2 separate regions of the Homo sapiens genome follow, and region 1 is linked to region 2. The links come from fine-mapping of genetic effects on plasma protein levels. A gene starts in region 2. The other region holds a variant in brackets. All regions are shown on one strand. Distances are from middle to middle.

The links. A credible set is the group of variants that fine-mapping cannot tell apart. PIP is the chance, under the fine-mapping model, that this variant and not a neighbour inherited with it causes the effect. Protein levels are from the aptamer-based SomaScan assay of Sun 2018.
Region 1: its variant is the best candidate, but not a certain one, in a credible set for the plasma level of the CA1 protein (Sun 2018, PIP 0.75).

The regions. Positions count from the first base shown.
Region 1 is chr8:84,875,198-84,880,586 of GRCh38, reverse strand. The region is part of intron 7 of RALYL (RALY RNA binding protein like); the gene reads right to left. Among named protein-coding and RNA genes, the nearest start is that of LRRCC1, 230 kb to the left of the region's middle. The variant C/T (reference allele first, on the strand shown) is at 2,586.
Region 2 is chr8:85,375,890-85,381,278 of GRCh38, reverse strand. CA1 (carbonic anhydrase 1) reads left to right here and starts at 3,166. Exons shown (of 8, transcript NM_001128831.4): 1 at 3,166-3,233. RefSeq lists a promoter at 2,347-3,138.

The DNA.
Region 1 (5,389 bases), 500 kb after region 2:
GTATCTTTAGGAAAATAGAGGGAAGGGGTGAAAAATATACCCAAGGTAAGATTTGGCAACACTGCTATGGTAGGAATAGAGGATAATGTTGAGACTGGCAATTTGATGGACAGGATTTATGTAATAGTGATGACAGAGATAGGGTACAGAGGAGTATATCTAGGTAGGAAAGTGAGGAGAAAGAATTCAATTTTGAAAGACTGTGATTGAGTTATTCACAAGATGGCTTCAATATTCCCCTTGGCTTGACTAAACTACAGGTAGGTTTCTTCCTGACCATAGGCCCTGGAGCATCCTTTCCTTAGAGTGTTTGCTTTAGCAAACTTGCAATTGTAAATTCTTTCTCTGCCCATTTGAGAGGCAAATTTTCTGTAACCCAGGAATATTTTTCTTAAGATTCAGGAGCTATCTCTTTGACATGTTATCATTGAATAAGATAGAGCCATTGTCTTCCAGTCTCCTTGGGAGAGTAGCAGCCTAACTTTAATAAGAGCTAATTAGCAAACACAGATGGTGGCCAAATATCCTCCTCCAACATCCCCCAATACTTTTCCATTAGCTTGCTCCAGCATTCAAGAATCTGCCTGCCTTTAGCTCATTCTAGAATTCAAAAAATTATTCTGCCTTTTATTTTTGCAGAGTTGAGTTCAATTTTATCTCCTATTGCAATAGTCTTGAACAAAGCCTTCCTTGCTGCTTTTAGTAAGTGTCCAGGGCAATCTTGCCTTTACAGTTAACTGAGGAAGCACTACAGGAAGCACTCCAGTAAGCAGTTGAAAGGTTTGATCTAGTTGCTAAGGACAACTCAATGTCTTTTCACCCCCTTATATTTAACTTCTTTAAAATATTTAATTTTTGTACTCAAATATTTCTACAAGCTTGCTATGGAAAACAGCAGCGTTTTGTTCCTACCTGTTCACCATTTCCAGCTCCTTAAAGGCTTTCCACTCACTTGGCTGAATCTTTTAAATACATGCACTCCTATCTCTAAATATTGTTTATATTGCTACTTCTCGATCAGTTTTATGCACTATCTGTTGACATTATCCCTAGGAAGCTGAGGATTCAGTTCTTGGTCCTATAATCCCCATTCACTTCCCATCTCTCTAGAGAATCATATTGTAAATTGGATTTAATAAATTTTCAGTTTTTACACAATTTTTATGGTGAAAGTACTTTGTGCAGCTAAGTTGTTAGTACAGGATGAATACTTTTTCTTTCCTGAAGAATATTTTATTTTCTCTAGAATTAAAAATTGCCTCAAGTTTTAAAAATTCGTTCTCTATGTGCTTCTCTTTACGTACTTATGCAAACTTACCCCTCCTTCTCAACCAATCCTCTTTCCCACCCAGTAGCTATTTCATCAATTTTGATGTCTTAAAAAGTCTATCCCAGAGCTTTTGAGCAGTTCTGATCTGGACTCATTTCTTTCCAGATCTCTTGCACAGCTCATCTCCTAGGATCTCTGTTACCTCTATCTTGAGAATTCCTTTTGTTTTTTGCTTTTAGAGTCCATGCTTTAGGAAGGCTCTGTTTTTCCTCTTTCTTGGTTTATCGCTGTGTTTTTGGTGAAGTACTCTTTTTAGTACTTTTCAGAGAAAGGGCATATTAAAACAGTTAATTGGAAGGCCATTAGGCTGAGATGGTTCCCGTGCCTTGGGTTCCCACATAGGTAAACTGAAACCCAACTCAGAATGAATACAGATGACCTAGGAAAACTGAAACTAAAGCTTATTCAGATATTCATCGTGTAATTCTCATATCCTTCCCCTATTTTCCATTTCTGTTTTTTTTTCCATATTTTCTGGGAGAGTTTTTCCAATTTTGTCTTCCAATCATTGTATTGAGTTATTTATTTGTGCTATCATATGTTAATTTATAAAAGCTCTTTTATCAGCGCTTTGAATACTCAGTTCTATAATTTTATGTTTTTATTACAGTATCTTCTCATTTCTCTGAGGGTATTAGTGTTTTTTTTTTCTTTTTGAAGTTTTATTCTTCCTGTATATGTTTGTTTCCTCTGACTTCTTTTTTTTTTGGCATTTGCTTATTAACTATGTTCTTTGATCTGGTGATTCTTGTTTGTTCACATTAACAGTAGGGCATTAAAATATTGACTGGCAACTTTGTAAGTATAGAGAGATACTGTCTCTGTAGGTGGTCTGGCTGAGTGATTCCTTAGTTGACCCTCTATCAGCATCTTTAAGTCTTTCCTCTTGGGCTGCTCATGTTCTCAACTGAAGACTCTTCTAGTGTCCTGCCAGTGCTGTGGTAGCTGAGTCAGGGAGAAGGTGGGCATTTCTACAGTAATTACGGAAACTTTCTCCCTCTCTGCTTTTAAGTGCTCTCAAGTTTCCTTATTGTCTACCAGCCCTGAGACCCACTGTTTTACCTTCACTAGAGGAAACTTCTCCAGCCTTCTTTCAAAGTGCAGTTGGGATAGCTGGGACATAGGAATCTGTTTCCTAAACAGACTTTCAACCATTTATTTTCCAGGGGAATATGATGCCTTGAATTCTGAGCTTTTTGGGAGTTTGTGATTAAAATTGGACTTGGATTTCTAGGATGTGCTAAATTAGGTATAC[C/T]TCCTGTCCAGCTGCTAAACCCTTTCCTTGTTTTTAATGCAGCTTCAAGAGAAAACACTGCTCAATTCATGTGTTTAATTCATCATCTTTAACCGGAAGCATCACCAATTCAATCTGAAGTGTCAATGAGAGCAGTAAGGTATTCAGAACAGAAATGGTAGTCATGTTATAGGCTACAGCAGTCAGATCATATCTGGAGCAACACTTTCCATTCTGAGCAACGTAATCTGTGTTGACAAACTACATAATGACTAGAGAAGAGAGATGGCAATAGTTTAAGGTGCAAAACCAAGTTAAATGAGAAGCAACTAAAGGAACTGTTGATATTTCTCTAGACCAAAAAGGCCTCTACGATGCTGTGATCAAAATTTGAATGCAGTTAAGATGAATACCCATAGGCCAATGATATCAACTCTCTGTTCAAAGGTTTTGGAGGGGTGAGAATACTATAGCTCCCTTTAAATATATATGTGTGTGCGTATATGTGTATATATATATATATATATTTATTTGTTTTGAGATGGAATCTCGCTGTCGCCCAGGTTGAAGTGCAGTGGCGTGATCTCAGTTCACTGCAACTTCCACCTCCTGGGTTCAAGCAATTCTCCTGCCTCAGACTCCTGAGTAGCTGGGATTACAGGCATGTGCCACCACATCCGGCTAATTTTTGTATTTTTCGTAGAGACAGGGTTTCACCATGTTGGCCAGGCTGGTCTCGAACTCCTAACCTCAAGTGATCCACTTGCCTCAGCCTCCCAAAGTGCTAGGATTACAGGTGTGAGCCACCGCGGCCGGCCACTCCCTTTAAATTCTTAATTGACTGTTGTATCACAAAGAATTAGACATTAAGTTTCTTTTCAGAGAACATAAGAGTGATAACTGAACCAAGTGAAAGCAAAATACATTTTAGCTCAGTGTAAGGAAAACCTGCAATGGGAGTCTCAGACATGAATGTGAACAGGGACCAAATAGATAATATAAATACATGAACTGGCTGGATAAAGATATTAGCAAACTGAAAAGTGCATGCCATGTGTAGAGTGATTGAGTAGCAGTATTGAAAAGTTCAATATTTTCAAAAGAGCTCATATTTTGAGATTTGTTTACAATACTCCAATTTTTGGACATTAATTTATTTTTGAAAACTTCATCTCTTATACCAAACATATGGGTAGGATGAATTTATCTTGTGGGACTCCTGCTTGTAACCTCTCTAAGACGTAAGTCTAACATCCCAATGTTATCACTGGAATTGTCCCAGTCAGACTTGGCTGCTCATGTATCAGGAATAACAGTGAGAATAAAATTGAACTAAATAATGTCTAATAATTGCCTTTTCACTTCAGAAAGTCTGCACTTGAAATGTAATTTTTTAAAAAATGTAGTTACCCATGGAGTAACTGTTCCCATTGCATGCTATCCAGTCTTTTTACTTTTCCTTCTTGTGCTTTTCACTGTTTTTGTTCACTTAACATCTTTGCGTAAAGCATGTAATTTGTGCTATGCATATGTGGCAACTTATATGCGGCTCTTTTAAAAGAATCATCTAACAATGAGGCAAAATTGCTGGCCGAACTGATTTTAAGTGTTACTTGTGGTTTTCTATAATCTACATAGTCACTATATCCCCAAAGAAGTTGTGTGATGTAATGGAAAAAATAATACATGCATGGTGGATTCACAGTAATCATAGTTTTAGAAGCCAGAATATACATTTGAGGCCATAACCCATTCCTCTAGTTTACATTTGAAAGACTTGAGACCTAAGAGAGTTAAATGACTTGCTAAGTTGTGCCCAGTACATAATACCTGGTGTTGGGTAGAGTTAGGGAAGAGAAGACATGATCTTGTTCTGAGGAACTTAACAATCTCAAATGACAGGACACCACACACACATCTATTTGAGCAATTTAAGGTATAGAAAATCCAAAGTAATGTACTGAGAGCTTAGGAGTTCGCTTCCAAAAAAAAGATACTATGGAACTTGACCTCAGGCACAGCCCATGTTGTGTGTCCTTCCCCACACTTTCAGATTCTCCATCTCCTTCCTGCCATTATTTCTCTGCTGGAAAATTTCACTATTAAATAAATAACTAATAGTAAATTAGGAGTGAGAAATTTATGAAAGAGTAATAATGAAGAGTAAATGCTAGCTACCAAGTAAGTAATTAGCTTTCAACTAATTAAGCATTGTAATGACTGTCCCCTTGAATAAGGAGCCACTGAGCATTTTAAAATGAGTTTTAGTGCATTTCACTCTACTTTCCATAAGGTAGTGTTAATTCTTTCCAAGCAAACCTGATTTTTTTCGTGAAGAAAATATAGTAAAATATATAAAACATTTATCTTTTATTTCTATAAATACACTATTCAGGAAACAATTACTAAAAGAATGGAGTTACAAATTCATTTTCTTCATAAAAAGTTAAAGAGACATAAATATCAAAGGACTAAGTCTTATTATTTTAAAAGCAACTGTCTCATGACTGTAAAAGTTTAAACATGTTCAAAAGTAAGTGACATCTCATGAAAAAAAGATGCAAGCTTTGAATTTTAGTGTTACATTTCTAAATGATCTTCCAAAAAGATATATGGAAGGTATTAGTCATTGCAGCAAACTGAAAGGTATATTATGATGGAATAAGGACCACATTTTTCTCTTTGAGGTGATTTATATTTAAATGAGTTCTCCATATTTAAATGAGTTCTCCATAATCCTTTAAACTGAAGTGCAAATTGGTTATCAAAGTCCTTTGCTGTAAGGGTTGTTTTACATAATAATGAATTTTACAGAGTTCCTCAAA
Region 2 (5,389 bases):
CCAGGCAATACCATTCATAACATAGGCATAGGCAAAGATTTCATGACAAAAATGTCAAAAGCAAAAATTGACAAATGGGATCTAATTAAACTAAAGAGCTTCTGCACTGCAAAAGGAGCTATCATTAGAGCAAACAGGTGACCTACAGAGTGGGAGAAAATTTTTGCAATCTATCTATCTGACAAAGGTCTAATATCCAGAATCTTCAAGGAACTTAAACAAATTTATAAGAAAAAAAATGAACAACCCCATTAAAAAGTGGGCAAAGCCCATTAACAAACACTTCTCAAAAGAAGACAAATATGTGGTCAAGAAACATAAAAAAAGCTCAACCTCACTGATCATTACAGGAATGCACATCAAAACCACAATGAGATATGATCTCACACCTGTCAGAATGGTGATTATTAAAAAGTCAAGAAACAACAGATGCTGGCGAGGCTATGGAGAAATAGGAGTGCTTTTCCACTGTTGGTGAGAATGTAAATTAGTTCCACCATTGTGGAAGACATTGTAGCAATTCCTTAAAGACCTAGAACCAGAAACAGCATTTGACACAGCAATCTCATTACTGGGTATATACACCCAAAAGAATATAAATCATTCTATTATAAAGATACATGCTTATGTATGTTAATTGCAGCACTATTCACAATAACAAAGATGTGGAATCAACCCAAATGCCCATCAATGATAGACTGGATAAAGAAAATGTGGTACATATACACCATGGAATACTACGCCACCATAAAAAGGAACAAGATCCTGTCCTTTGTAGGGACATTTAGCTGCCTTTAATTGAGACTTTGATTGTACCATTCAGATTCTGGCACTTTGGTCCAATTATAGGAGTATTCTGGATGCCAGCATCTTTGCTAGCTGTGCACCCACAAAGCCTTTGACTTAAAAGACATTTGTGAATCAAGCTCCCAGGACCCAACATTGTATTCAAATTCTACAAATGACTCAGCCCCATTATAACACCACAGAGTCACAAAAATACAGCCCACATCAACCCTAGTGGGTATCCATGTGGGAAGGATACCCTAGTCCGACACTGCCCTAGCTCAAGACCATGCCATTAAAGATGACATGCCCCCTGCCTCCCAACCAACTATGGGCAGTGCCAACTACACTAGCACATGGAATGTCTTGCCATTCATAGGAGACCAGAGGCTCTTGGTTTTCCAGTAGCTGGTTACACTGCTGACTTCTGTTTTAAAAAAGCAAGACCCACAACACTGGAGTAACTTTCCAGACTTTACAGACACCTATAAAACTCGAAGTTCTGCTCTCTGTGATTGTAATTCCACTCTATACCTGGCTTAGCCCTTATGAGACCAAGTCCAATACCTCCCTAATGCTTCTAAGATTCAGGTTCCTGCTAATCCCACCCACTTCTCCTGCCTAAAGGGTAACCTGACTGAAGTATTCCACCCTGTGTGCTCTCCTAGGAGTAAAAGGAGCATCTGCTGGTCTCCGACTGTCAAACCATTTATTCCCTTCCATCCTCCTCGCCTTCCCTTTCTCATTGTCAGTATCCCTACTCCCACCCCTATCTTTTCCGTCCTAACAGCATCTTCTCCTCTTGCCCTCTAAAAGACTACGTAAGTAAAATTCAAACCCACTGCCCCAGCTTCTCTGATATTTATACAGACATCCAAAATACAAACACATTTGACTGAAGTAGGCTCTTCTGCACTGACTATCCATAACTCATCACCCTGCTTCCACATATCCCACATCACACATTTACCCAACTGATAATTGCCCCAGAGATGAAAAATACTGAGAAATGAAAACCACTTCCAAACGGCCTTTTCTTCTGTATTGGGGTGCCCCCTCATGGCAAGTGGCAACTGCACTCGTATTTCCTCAATACATACCACAGATGGGCTACCCAATGAACAACTGCATATTCTCACCATATGCCCAACAAAAGCCACTGTCTTCCTCCAGTCCCATTCTTTAGTAATTTCCCTTTACCTAAATCAAGGTACAATTTTCCAGTCTAATGGTAATGCCACAAAACTATATTGTGTCCCAACCAACAAGGGTGTTTATCCCCTCTCCTTTGCCCTTCCATTACTCTGAAACTGGAAGCCACGAGATGCATTCTGGCCTCTCTTGGCATTCCTATTTATATAAATGTTAATTATTCTTTCCCTACCCAGCCAAATGTCATTGATGTGCCACATTTGTACCTATAATACTGGGACTCACCACTGCTCTGGGACTTGCTGCGATGGCCACAAGGACCATTGCTTTAGCCCAACAGTCAAAAATAATTGATGCTACCCTACAAATGTCCAAAACTCTAGTATATCATATTTCTAAGTTACAGCAAATATTAGTCCTGCTAAACCAGGGAGCTTTGGCAAAAATGTTTTTTGACAGTAAATTTGTCCTTGATTATATATTAACTAGTCAAAGAGGTGTTTGTAACATTATTAGAGCTTCTTGTTGTAGGTGGGTTAACACCACCAATCAAGAGGTCATTCTAACAGAAAGCCTGGATCAGAAAACCATCACCCTAAAAAAACATGCCTTACATATTTAACACACTCTGAAATCCAGTCAAAATATGACTAAAGGCCCTTGCCATGACTGATGTATTCTCCTGGCCAACGCCAAACAAATGGGAGCCTGGTTACGAGTCAGCCTTCAGGGACTTGTCACATTTCTACTTGGTTTCTTCCTTGTTATTGTCATAATAAAATGTTTTCTATGCTGTTTAGTGCAACTTAGGCCCTATTCTGTAGAAGTCTCCTCTACTATTCAGGCCACTCAAACACCCCAAATAATTGAGTTCAAAATCGACATCAAGATATAAAGGAATCAGTGACTAAATATATTTCATATATGGTATTTTTATTGATTATTGTGCTGTCTTGACCTAGTATGGAGGCCTTGGCTAGAGGCTGGTCAGTTTCCTCTCTTGAGCAGCTGATTAAATCCACACCCCAACCACTTCCCTTATCAGGTTCTCACACTCTGGGGCCACTATGTACCCACTCTAATCACCACAGGGCCAGACATCAGACAATTAAGGACAGCGCCCATGCCCCAAAGCCCGCCAAAATTATGCAAATTATTCAAAATTATTCAACCTAGCTAACCCCACCCTTTTTGCTGTACATAAGCTGCCCATTCCCCCTCCAGCCTGTGGTACCCAGTCCTCAGGTGCAACCCCCTGCGTGGTCCTCTGTGGCAGCCTTCTCTCATTCAGAGCTGTAAGTAACAAAGACTTCTGCCTTTCATCTAGCTGAGCATTGAAGTGTTTTATCCGACTGCCAAAAGAATCTTTAAATCTTGTAAAATACAGTCCTACCTACATCTTAATTACTATTCAATGAATGAAAGCTGCAAAGCTTAAAAAACCTTTATAGTTTTTCTAAACCTTTTATATTTATCAAGCAGATCTCTGTAAATCTGTAAATCTGAAAAGGATAATATAAATTACCTTTTTTTTTTTTGAGACAGAGTCTCACTTGGCAGCCTAGGCTGGAGTGCAGTGGCACCATCTCTGCTAACTGCAACCTCTGCCTCCCAGGTTCAAGTGATTCTCCTGCCTCAGCCTCCCGAGTAGCTGGGATTACAGGCACATGCCACCACACCTGGCTAATTACTGTATTTTTAGTAGAGGGGATTTCACCATGTTTGCAAGGCTGGTCTCGAACTACTGACCTCAGGTGATCTGCCCTCCTCAGCCTCCCAAAGTGCTGGGACTAGAGGCGTGAGCCACTGTGCCCAGCCAATATAAATTACCATTTAAAATTATTCCATGACTAATGTTCAATTTGACGTTAATTCCCCTAAACAAATAATGCAATTGATAGACTTGGTTAATTAAGTTCCTTTAAATATTATATATTATATCAATTACAAATTTAGTCTACCTGAATCTCTCAAGCATTTCAAATGCCTGACACATTAGTATCTTTTATACATCTTGCAAGTTTATAAAAGGAGGGAGGGGGCTCTAATAATTAAAGCAATTCCAGTAAAAGTAATAAACCAAATTTATGCAGTAGTAAGTTATGTTCTCTTAAACATTCAAACACTGTGTATAGACTGAAGAAAATGCTCTTGTACTTTAAAATTGAAATTATATGGTTCATATATCTGATTTTCTAATATATCAGGTTATATTAAATGCTTCAAGTAACTTAACAAACAATCTTTCATAGGTTATCTCAAGGATTAAATAATTAAATTTCTAAAGTTAATACAAATGTGTTAATATTGTGGATTTGACTAACTTCAACATTCTTATAGTTATTTCTCTCTTCTCCCAGTATTGTAAATCCACTTATGCAAATAAAGAGAATAGATAGATGTATGATCTGATTGGGCTGAGGATACTGTATCAGAGAATCAAGGCCAGGGTTGAAGTGTCAGTTAAAGAATTTGAGAGAGGGTCAGGGACCTAATTAGGTACCACACATGCCCAGGGTGCCTCTACACGACCCGAAAGTCAATCTGCTGGGCATCTCCTTGAGGTAACAGAGCTTTCCAAATTCACACTGTTTCATGCAGTCTAGTATATCATGTGTACCCTTACCTAGTTTTATTTATTTATTTATTTATTTATTTATTTATTTATTTATTTATTTATTTTTGAGACAATTTCTCTGTCACCAGGCTGGAGTGCAGTGGTGTGATCTCAGCTCACTGTAACCTCTGCCTCCTGGGTTCAAGCAATTCTCTTGCCTCAGTCTCCGGAGTACCTGGGACTACAGGCATGTGCCACCACGCCCGTCTAATTTTTGTATTTTTAGTAGAGACAGGGTTTCACCATGTTGGCCAGGATTGTCTCAATCTCTTGACCTCTGATGATCCGCCTACCTCGGCCTCCCAAAGTGCTGGGATTATAGGTGTGAGGCACCGTGCCCGGCCCCCTTACCCAATTTTTAAAGTTACCTCTTTTATAACTTTTTTGTTTTTTTGAGACAGAATCTCACTCTGTCACCCAGGCTGGAGTGTAGTGGCATGATCTCTGCTCACTGCAACCTCTGCCTCCCGGTTCAAGCAATTCTCGTGTCTCAGCCTCCCGAGTAGCTGGGATTACAAGTATGCGCTACCACACCCGGCCAATTTTTGTATTTTTAGTAGAGATGGGGTTTCGCCATGTTGGCCAGGCTGGTCCTGAACTCCTAACCTCAAGCGATCCACCAGCTTGGACCTTCCAAAGTACTGGGATTAAAGGCATGAGCCACCATGCCCAGCTTCTTTTATAACTTATAACTGTGTAATTTGATAGTTGAAATTCCCTCTATAGGATATTATTCACTACTCGACTGAATTCAATCTCTTTATTGCCTGATTGGAGTCAACTTGCTTTTTACATGTTTTATATCCAGTTCAATATCAAGAATCCTTTTGTCAT